3 separate regions of the Homo sapiens genome follow, and regions 1 and 3 are each reported to be linked to region 2. The links are microRNA targets in miRTarBase. Many come from high-throughput screens and were not tested one by one. Region 2 holds a microRNA gene; each other region holds the end of a gene's coding sequence.

Region 1 (3,247 bases), not on the chromosome of region 2:
GCAGGCCGACGCCTCCCCCCAGGGTCAGCTGCGGGCTCCCAGGCCTAGGCGCCCATGACCCCTACGCCAACAGCCGCCTGGACACCGCCGCCGCCACTGCGACCTAGCGCCGCCGCCGCCGGGGCCCAATGCCGGTCATGCCCATTCCGCGGCGGGTGCGCTCCTTCCACGGCCCGCACACCACCTGCCTGCATGCGGCCTGCGGGCCCGTGCGCGCCTCCCACCTGGCCCGCACCAAGTACAACAACTTCGACGTGTACATCAAGACGCGCTGGCTGTACGGCTTCATCCGCTTCCTACTCTACTTTAGCTGCAGCCTGTTCACTGCGGCGCTCTGGGGTGCGCTGGCCGCCCTCTTCTGCCTACAGTACCTGGGCGTTCGCGTCCTGCTGCGCTTCCAGCGCAAGCTGTCGGTGCTGCTGCTGCTGCTGGGCCGCCGGCGCGTGGACTTCCGCCTGGTGAACGAGCTGCTCGTCTATGGCATCCACGTCACCATGCTGCTGGTCGGGGGCCTGGGCTGGTGCTTCATGGTCTTCGTGGACATGTGAGGGCCGTGGGTGCGAGCTTGATGTATCGTCCCGGCCTGTGGCTGTGTTCTCTCCATGGGTGGGGTCGGCCAGCGCCTTCCCTTCGCCCATCCCCCAGGCAGTCGCTGCTGCCCGGCGCCCACGGAGAGAAAAGAAAGGGCTGAGACTTCTGTGATGGGGGCGCGGACACCACCCCTAGGCTGGCTTCCTGGACCCACCCTCCCCGTATGCACTCTCAGGGGCAGCGCCCACCTGCCGGTGGCTCCTGCTCACATGTCTTCGGGTCGTACTGCGGGGTGGGCCCTCCGTTCCGCCTCTCTGTGGGCCTCTCTCCAGGACCACAGCTGCCAGGGACTTTAGACATCACCCTGGGAGGCCCCTGGACACAGAGGGCTGTGTGCCCAGGAGCAATTCCGGAGGGGGGCCCTCCTGGCTGCACAGCCCCTTCTGCGTGCCCTGGCCCCAGCCCCAGCCAACGGGACACGGAAGGCTCCCCTCGCTGACACACCACACTGCCACAAAGCTGCTTACTCTGCCCTGGGCCGCCTGAGGCCTGGCACTGCCCGCGGACCACCCTGTGTGTGTCATCCTGAGGGGCTGTGTGGGTCCTGAGTCCCCAGCCAGCCTTCAGGGTCCCCTTGGATTGTGTAGATGCAGTCTAGCGGGGGGCCGGAGAAGGGCTCAGGTGGGAGGGGCCTCAGCAGGCTCCCAGCTCAGGGGCTGGCCTGGGGGGAACCCTGGGAGCCAGGGGCTGACTCCAGCAACACTGGCCTGTCTGCCTGTTCTGGGAGGGCTGTGAGGATGTCTTGCAGATGCTCTGGATTTCTGCGGAGGCACCTCCATTCCTTTCTGGCTTTTTTTGCGGGGGAGGGCTTTGGGCCTCTTTCTTTGAGGGAACACCGTCAAAGAAAGCCTGGGAGATCGAGGCTTCAGTGAGCCAGGATGGAAACGCGTGTCCCAAGTGTCCGGAGCAGGCGGCAGAGGCCTCAGTGCGGCAAACACAGCCCCAGAGCCTGTGTGGCACCAGCAGCATCTTAGAGCCCCAGGTATATGCTGAGATCTTATCTCACGCTGTCCTCCAGTGTCTGGGGGGCCCAAATGATGGCACAGGGGCAGGTGGGCTGGAGGGGCGCAGATGCCTGTGTTCAGGGAGGGTGGCCACCATGGGCCGAGGTCTCACCCAGGACCCCTTGCTCTGCTCCTCAGCCTTGCAGTCACGGCAGCACTATGGTGGACTGCCCATGGCCGTGTGACTTTGGGGGCAAGTGGGAGGGCGCCCTGAATAATGATTGCAAGGACAACAGGCAGAGGCTACCCTAGAGCAGGACACAGGGTGTGGTACTGACAACCCTAGTGTCACCTCAAATCCATGTCCCCACACTCTGGGCATGGGTGGGACTTGTGACCCTACCCTGTCAGGCGGACCAGTGGCCCAGGAGCCATGAGGACAGTTGTGTGCCACTGGAAGAGAAACTTTTTGAAAAACCCTAAATCAGGTAGAGAAAGCAAAAAATCTCTGGCCGTAAACCGTGCTCTCTAATTTATCGGCAGCTTCTGTGGATGACCTCTGATGAGCCCGGGCTGCGTCCACGCCCTGGGCAGGTAGGCGGGAGCTTCCCTGCGTGGGCCTCATTTCTTGCTGCAGAGAATCTTTTGCACTAAGTCATGCTGTTTCCTCAAAGAAGCTTTGTTTTTTGTTAACGTATTACTCAGAGTCACCCAAGCCTCTTGGCTGAGGGTGAAGGTGGGACGGGAGGCGGGAGGGGGCTGGTGGTGCCGCTCGTGCGGTGTCAACGCTGCAGGGAGTTGTGGCACCTTGGTGCCCTCTGAGCACCTGGCCGCCTGCTGTCCCCGGTGCCTGTGAAATTCGTCATGCCATGACCCACCTGCATTAAACCTATTTTTTTAATGTGTTGATGGAGTGATTGCTTAAAGTTCAATTGTTTTATTCCGTTTTGAAGGACATAATAATCACCCAGAGCACCATAGAAATCATCTTGTGTAAGATGGGAAAGTTTTCCCAAACACTTGTTGCCGTGCTGGGGAAGGAGCCCCTGAGGCCAGGGTTCTCCTTATGGGAAGCTGCCCTGGGGAGATAGCCTAGCTGACAGGCAAAGATTTGTCAGCAGGGCAGTCACCGGGACACTGCTGTGCAGGCCGGTGGAGGTTGCATTCGGCTGACTGGCCCGTTCAGAGTTTTTTTTTTTTTTTTCAGATGGAGTTTTGCTCATGTCAGCCGGGCTGGAGTGCATTGACACGATCTCAGCTCACTGCAACCTCCACCTCCCGGGTTCAAGTGATTCTTGTGTCTCAGCCTCCCAAGTAGCTGGGATTACAGGCGCCCACCACCACGCCCGGATCATTTTTGTATTTTTAGTAGAGATGGAGTTGCGCCATGTTGGCCGGGCTGGTCTTGAACTCCTGACCTCAGGTGATTCACCTGCCTCAGCCTCCCAAAGTGCTGGGATTCCAGGCGTGAGCCCCTCCACCCAGCCTAGTTCAGAGTCTTAAAGCTGAGGTGGTGTTTCCGACGCTGCTGAAAGGAAAGAGGCCTCAGGGCTGTGAGTAAGGACAGCCCGATCCACCTCGGGAAGATGCGCACACACGAAAAAAGGTTGGAAGAAAAATAAAACCAAAGTTCTTATTTATCCAAAAAAACCGTTTGAGGCCAGGTGCAGTGGCTCACGCCTGTAATCCCAGCACTTTGGGAAGCCAAGGCA
Region 2 (3,247 bases):
TCACCTCGCGGATGGCGTTAGAGGACAGTGCTCCAGGCAGGTCCTGCTTATTAGCAAAGATGAGGAGGGTTGCTCCGGCCAGGCGCTGGGGGAGAAAAGATAGAGGGGTGGGGTGGGGACTCAGAGGACAGCCTGACCCCTCCTCTAATGGCCCAGAGCATCTGGGGTGAAGGATCGACCTGGAAGATCAAGGTGAGGCCCCGTGGTGGTGGGAGAGGCCCAGGAGTGAGTTTGTGGACGTAGCCATCAAGGCTGGCCCACATGAATGGAGCAGCCCTGGGCCAGGGTTCTGGTTCCAGCCAACCACCACCCAGGGGACACCGCTGTCCCCATGCTCCAGCTTCCTCTTCCATGAACAGGGAGGGGTGTTGCATAAGATGATCCCTGAGCTCTCCGTGGTTCTAGACTGCTCCAATCTGATGACCAGACATGCACAGAGGATGTGAACTCTCCCTCTTCTGGGTTCACACAGCCCTTTAACCGTTCCACTCCCGACAGGCCTCACTGTCCACCTCTGATTCTAGTTGTTTCCACATATGTGTCTGTGATTGGGAGAGATGTGGGTGGACGGGTCTAACCCTTGGGCCTTGACCTGCCTTGACCAGCATTTGACGGCCCTGATCTCATCTGACCTGCTCCACCCACATAGGAGATGTGTGCGGTGTGCCCAGGACAGTCCCCACTCTGCCTGCAGAATCCCCCCTTTCACTCTCACAAGTGTCCTCATTTTCAACTAAATGCAATTTTGTAGCCTGAATCAAACATTGGAACACAAAAAGTATATTAGTGGAAAAACGTGAAATTCAAATAAAATCTGTAATTAAGATAATAGTAATTCACCAGTGTTGATTTATTAGTTTGGACAGGCCACGGTTAGGTAAGATGGGGAAGCAAGGTAAAGGGTATATGGGGGACCTCTGACCTCTGTACTATCTTTGCAAGTGTCCTTCTTTTTTTTTTTTGAGACGGAGTCTCACTCTGTTGCCCAGGCTGGAGTGCAGTGGCACAATCTCGGCTCACTGCAAGCTCCGCCTCCCAGGTTCACGCCATTTTCCTGCCTCAGCCTCCTGAGTAGCTGGGACTACAGGCGCCCGCCACCATGCCTGGCTAATTTTTTGTATTTTTAGTAGACACGGGGTTTCACCATGTTAGCCAGGACGGTCTCGATCTCCTGACCTCGTGATCCGCCCGCTTCAGCCTCCCAAAGTGCTGGGATTACAGGCGTGAGCCACCGCACCTGGCCCCTTCCTTTTTTTTTTTTTTTGAGACAGGGTCTTGCTCTGTCGCCCAGGAGGCTGGAGTGCAGTGGCACGATCACAGCTCACTGCAGCCTCAACCTCCTGGGCTCAACTGATCCTCCTGTCTGAGCCTCCAGAGTAGCTAGGACTATAGGTGCGTGCCACCACCCCCAGCTGAGGTCACACAGCAAAGAGTCAGACTCTTGAGCCAGGCTCCATGGCCTCTCGAAGCTTCATACTGGCCTTGGGTTATCCTCCCTAAAGCCCAGTGATGTGGGTGTCATCATCACCATTTCAAGGCATAGAAACTGATGCTCAGGGTAGTGACGTAGTAACACCACAGGGACGTTAACTCAATCTCAGTCCACAGCATGTGTCCTGCCTCTGGCACCATGGGCCTCCCATGGTGGGGGCCCAGAGAAGGAAGGGATCCTGCCTCTGGTTTCCCTCTGGGGCCACGGGCCCCTCTGGGCATCTGCTGAGAAGGCAGCCACACGTCCATACATGTACACAAAGGGTAGGAGCTGCCCACCTCCTCCACCAGCAGGCTCTGGAGCTCCCGCTGGCAGTCCTGCATGCGCTGGCGGTCTGCGCTGTCCACTACCCAGATGAGGCCATCGGTGCTCTCAAAGTAGTTCCGCCAGTAGGACCGCAGGGACTTCTGGCCACCCACATCCCAGATGTTCAGCTTGAATCTGGGCAAGGAGCGGGTGACAGGAGGGTCAGCTGGGCCCCTCTCCCACCTTCCCTGCCCTGCTCTGGGCTGGCCCTCCCATGGGGCCCCTGCTCACCCTCGGTGCTCCAGGGTCTTGATGTTGAAGCCCAGCGTTGGGGAGATGGTGTCGATGTCCTCCCCATTGAACTTCTTCAGGATGGTTGTCTTTCCAGCATTGTCCAGGCCACTGGGGCGCAGCAGGTTAAGGAGAAGTCCCTGTTCTCTGCCAGGTGGTGACATTGTTGCAGAGCCCCTTAGGGGACTCATTATTTCCCACCATGTATCAAACTGAGTTGAGCACATGCCTGACCATAATCGGCCCACAATAAATATGAAAGTATCAAATTATAAATATCATCTCTACTGACCAAAGGCTCCTTAATTTGTTGAACACCTACTATGTGCCAGACCCTCTTCTGGGTGCTAGAGGACAAAGCCCTGCCCTTAGGAAGCTTACACTCTAGCGGGAAGACAGTCAATAAAGTACAAACAAATGAGAAAAGAAGGCCCTGCCAGATCCCGGCTAGCGCCATCAACACAACAGAGAGGCTTTCCAAGAGGGCCATCGGAGGAGGCTCTTTCAGCTCAGGTGCCGGGGAAGGCCTCTCTGAGGTGTCTGGAGCTGAGACCCAAAATACAAGGAGCAAGCTTTTTGAAGAACTAAGGTAAGAACAAATATCTGGAGGCAGCCACCCTCATTTGTTTCTGGAATATTCCAGACCTGCTACTGCACAGTGCAAATTAATGGGTGTGCTTACCTGTGGAAGGAACCACCCTCCTCTATCTTCCCAACACTGCAGCTCAGTTGGGCATGGTGGGGTGGGCGGGTCCTGGACTCGACCACCTTTCCCTGCTCATCGGAGCTGGGGCAAATGACCTAGGCCCAGGAGAGGGGTGAGGAGGGCATTTCCCCTGAGGCCCAGCCTTAGCCCCTGGAACCTAGCCGCTGATGACCCCCTGCCCCCAAGCCATCATCCATGTTTCCTTCCCCTCTTGATCATTCCCACTGGCTGATGAGCTTGCCGTTCTTTCTCCCACCTTAAAAAGAGCAAATAGGCCGGGCGCGGTGGCTCACACCTGTAATCCCAGCACTTTGGGAGGCCAAGGTGGGTGGATCATCTGAGGTCAGGAGTTCGAAACCAGCCTGACCAACAAGGTGAAACCCCATCTCTACTAAAACTACAAAAATCAGCCAGGCGTGGTGGCGGGCCCCTATAGTCCCAGCTACTCGGGAGGCTGAGACAGGAGAATTGCTTGAACCCGGCAGGCAGAGGTTGCAATGAGCCGAGATCAC
Region 3 (3,247 bases), not on the chromosome of region 2:
GCCCCTGTAGTCCCCGCTACTCGGGAGGATGAGGCAGGAGAATCACTTGAACCCGGGAGGCAGAGGTTGCAGTGAGCTGAGATTGTGCCACTGCATTCCAGCCTGGCAACAGAGCAAGACTCCATCTCAAAAAACAGTATAGCATGAGAGAGCCTCCCTCCCATCCTCTCTCCATCATCAAATTCCTCTCTGAAGAAACCCACTCACAATTTCCCGTGTGTGCTTCTCCCCAGCAATCACAGCACACAGGCGCATTCAGCCTGCCCCTTGCTTTTGTCCCTAAACATTGTCATTTGGCAGCAGTCTGTATCAGTCCAGAAAGGGTTTCTTCTGCTTTCTGTTGCAGAGAACTTGATCGTGTGGCTGAACTGTGATTTATTGATCAGGATCCCTCTTGAGGGATACAGAGGTTAGTTCCAGTGTTCACACTGGCCTAATCGAACCTCTTTATACTCTTTCTCCCCCTCTGCAGGGTGGCCGTCGTGACCTGGGGGGCAGCTGCTTGAAGGTGAGGGGGGTGGCCCCCCTTCGAGGGCCACGGAGATGAGCCTGGACCCTGGAGAAGGAGGCCAGGAGCCAGCCACTGGCTGGACAGGGAAGAAGACCCCAGGAGCCAAGCCCACCCCTTCTTTGTGTAGGGACCGGGGGACCATGGCCTGTTCCGGGACACTCTGGGCAGGGCCCTCGGGACATCTCCACCCGATCCTGGAGAGCTGTGAGGATCCATTCAGCCTGCCCAGCTCTGGCTGGTCAGAGACAAGGCAGAACTTTTGGAAAAACAAAGACTGTTGGTGACAGGGTGTGTGTGTATCTGTGCGTGAGTGTGAGTGTGTGTGAGAGAGAATTGGTGAGTTTAAAATAAAAGCTATTTTTAAATAAAAGACGTCGTTCTGAGCTGAGGAGAGTCCCGTGGACATCGGAGGTCAGAGGTGGGCCCTCCCCTGGACCTAGAGAGAGGCACAGATGTTCTGGGGGCTGCCCTGAGCCCTGGAAGGGTGGGGGTGGGGCGGGGGAAGGCAGGCAGAGCCCCCTCTCCGGGCGCCATAACCAAACTTTCCTCAGTCTGCTGTTTATCAGATGTTCTTAACAACTGTTAGGTGTCTGATATGGTTGGTAAAGAAATCTTAATTTTACTTATTTTTGAATAAGGCCTGTGTTCATTTCATTCACATGGTTCAAAACTCAGAAGGTACCAGAGGGTATGTGTTGAAAAGTCTCCGTGCCCCTGTCCTCCAGCCACCAGCTCTCCTCTCTGCAAGCAGCCTAGGGCACCAGTTTCCTGTGATGTCCCATTCACTATGAATGATCAGGCAAATACACAAATGACAGCACATCGTACACACTTTTGGCTCCTTCTTTTTTTCCTTAATCTAGCTTGGTATCATCCCAAGTCAGTACCTAAAGGGTATTTCATTTCTTCCTGAGCTGCTTATTATTCCATTTTGTGAACATGCCATCCTTTAACCCATCCCTCTTTGATGCGATCACCAACAAGCCATGTGGTTTTCCACAAGTGCAAATGAGTGCATGCTAAAGGGGAATATTCTTACCCCTGTGTTAGCTGAAATGCTTTAGAAGACCGATGACACCCAGAGGCACGTGGCAGGGTGACACCCTGAGGTCCGTCCACCTTTGAAGCCCAGAGCAGCTCCTTCCTTGCCCTGGAGATGCCCCAAGTGGAAAGCCAGCACCTGTTACCCCAATTACACTCCCAGGAGCCCTGGGAGGTGAGAGCTGGTGTCTTCCCCACTGCAGACCCAGCAGAGACAGCGATGCGTCAGCTGATCAGTGCAGCTAGGAGTTCTTGGCTCTCGGGCTGGGGCTGTGTCCCTGTGAGGTCAGGATCAGAGAAGCTCGAGAGGCCCGAGGGTGGGAGAGCCAGGGAAAGGCCAGGGCAGCCAGGCAGCCACCCTCTCCTCAGCAAGGTACATTCATATGCCTATTTCAACAGTTTATTTATTTAACAAACACTTTTATTTTTATTTTTTTAGAGACAGGGTCTCACTATGTTGCCCAGGCTGGTCTCAAACTCCTGAGCTCAAGTGATCTATTTCATGTTTACTGACTGCACTCTGGCCCCAGAGTCCACGTTCGTATCCCCTCTGTTCTGCCTCTACCCCACTCCCCTGCGTTTGACCATCTGAGCCTGAATTGTGGCTCCGATTTTGCAAATTGACAAACAGATTGTCAATACCCTCTGTGTGGCAGGCACTGTGCCAGATGCCACAGGAATGAGCCCGACCAACCTGGTCTTCCTCACAGATGAAAACCGAGGCCCAGGGAGATCAAGGGAGTTGTGGAATTGCCAGTCCCTAGGCTGGAGCAGGCCATGAAATTACCATGCTTAATTCCTTTGGTGTAAGAAGTAGAGGAAGGAGGGCCCCAGGGGGCCGGGGTCCCCCACCCAGGAGAGCTTTCCAAGCACCCTCTACCTCACTTCCCCGCTGTTTCAGGAACACTGGTCGTGCTTATCCTGTGTCCCAGCGTGGCTGTGCTTCCCCCTTTGGGAGCTGATTAGGAAAGCACATTGCTCCCCCTGCGCCTACCCTCCCAGGTACAGCCAGCCTCTGGCAAAGCCACAGGAAAAGGACTGTGGCCTTGTCAATGGCAGGAAGCCTGGGAGTGGGGGCAGAGCAGACACTTGGGTGCTCTGGCTGGAGGCCCACTCCGCCACCAGATTTGCTGGGTGACCCCAGAGATGTTGCTTGACCCCTCTGGGCCTCCCTGGCTCAGTCTCTAACTAGTAAGAGCAGCTAGAACAGAAAGATAAGTATTTGTTTTGCTTTGTGAGATAGTTTTTAATAGACCCTGTATGCACTGGTAAGTAATCCAAGTTGTATCAAATGGTATGCAGTGAAAAGTACAGACCTCCTCAGGCCCCTCCCCAGAGGCAGCTTCCTGAGTGTCCTTCCAAAAAAGCTTCTATACTGATAACTGTTTCTGAAAAAATATTTATAGGTTTCTCTGCCTGTGCTTTCATTGTAAAACAAATTCAAAATGCTATAAGACTCTAGAAATATCACTTATCCCAGAGACAGCCACAGTGAAGACGATAATCCCACCGAGTATTTTTTGTTGTTTTGTTTGAGATAGGGTCTCACTCTGTCACCCAGGCTGGAGTGCAGTGGCACAGTCATAGCTCGCTGCAGGCTTAACCTCCTGTCCTCAAGTGATCCTCCCACCTCAGCCTGCGGAGTAGCTGGAAATACGGGCATACACCACCAGGCCTGGCTAATTTTATTTATTT

The links. Region 2 holds the annotated microRNA hsa-miR-6879-3p (UGUCACCCGCUCCUUGCCCAG, at 1,934-1,954, opposite strand). A microRNA usually pairs through its seed, bases 2 to 8, with sites in the 3' UTR of a target mRNA and lowers its output. Matches are read on the target gene's strand: a 7mer-m8 pairs with bases 2 to 8, a 7mer-A1 pairs with bases 2 to 7 and ends in A, and an 8mer does both.
Region 1: the mRNA of TMEM250 is a reported target of hsa-miR-6879-3p. The part of its 3' UTR that is shown has no 7-base or 8-base seed match.
Region 3: the mRNA of TCF15 is a reported target of hsa-miR-6879-3p. Seed matches in the 3' UTR shown: 7mer-A1 at 791-797.

The regions. Positions count from the first base shown.
Region 1 is chr9:136,113,782-136,117,028 of GRCh38, reverse strand. TMEM250 (transmembrane protein 250) reads left to right here. Exons shown (of 2, transcript NM_152833.3): 2 at 5-2,440. The coding sequence starts at 129. The coding sequence ends at 548. Among named protein-coding and RNA genes, the nearest start is that of TMEM250, 3.5 kb to the left of the region's middle. RefSeq lists an enhancer at 1-208.
Region 2 is chr11:65,017,257-65,020,503 of GRCh38, reverse strand. MIR6879 (microRNA 6879) reads right to left here and starts at 1,999; the gene lies at 1,934-1,999. ARL2 (ARF like GTPase 2) reads right to left here. Exons shown (of 5, transcript NM_001667.4): 2 at 2,030-2,140; 3 at 1,771-1,933; 4 at 5-85. It overlaps ARL2-SNX15 (ARL2-SNX15 readthrough (NMD candidate)), which reads right to left. Exons shown (of 11, transcript NR_037650.2): 2 at 2,030-2,140; 3 at 1,771-1,933.
Region 3 is chr20:601,891-605,137 of GRCh38, reverse strand. It overlaps TCF15 (transcription factor 15), which reads left to right. Exons shown (of 2, transcript NM_004609.4): 2 at 473-881. The coding sequence ends at 547. Among named protein-coding and RNA genes, the nearest start is that of TCF15, 6.8 kb to the left of the region's middle.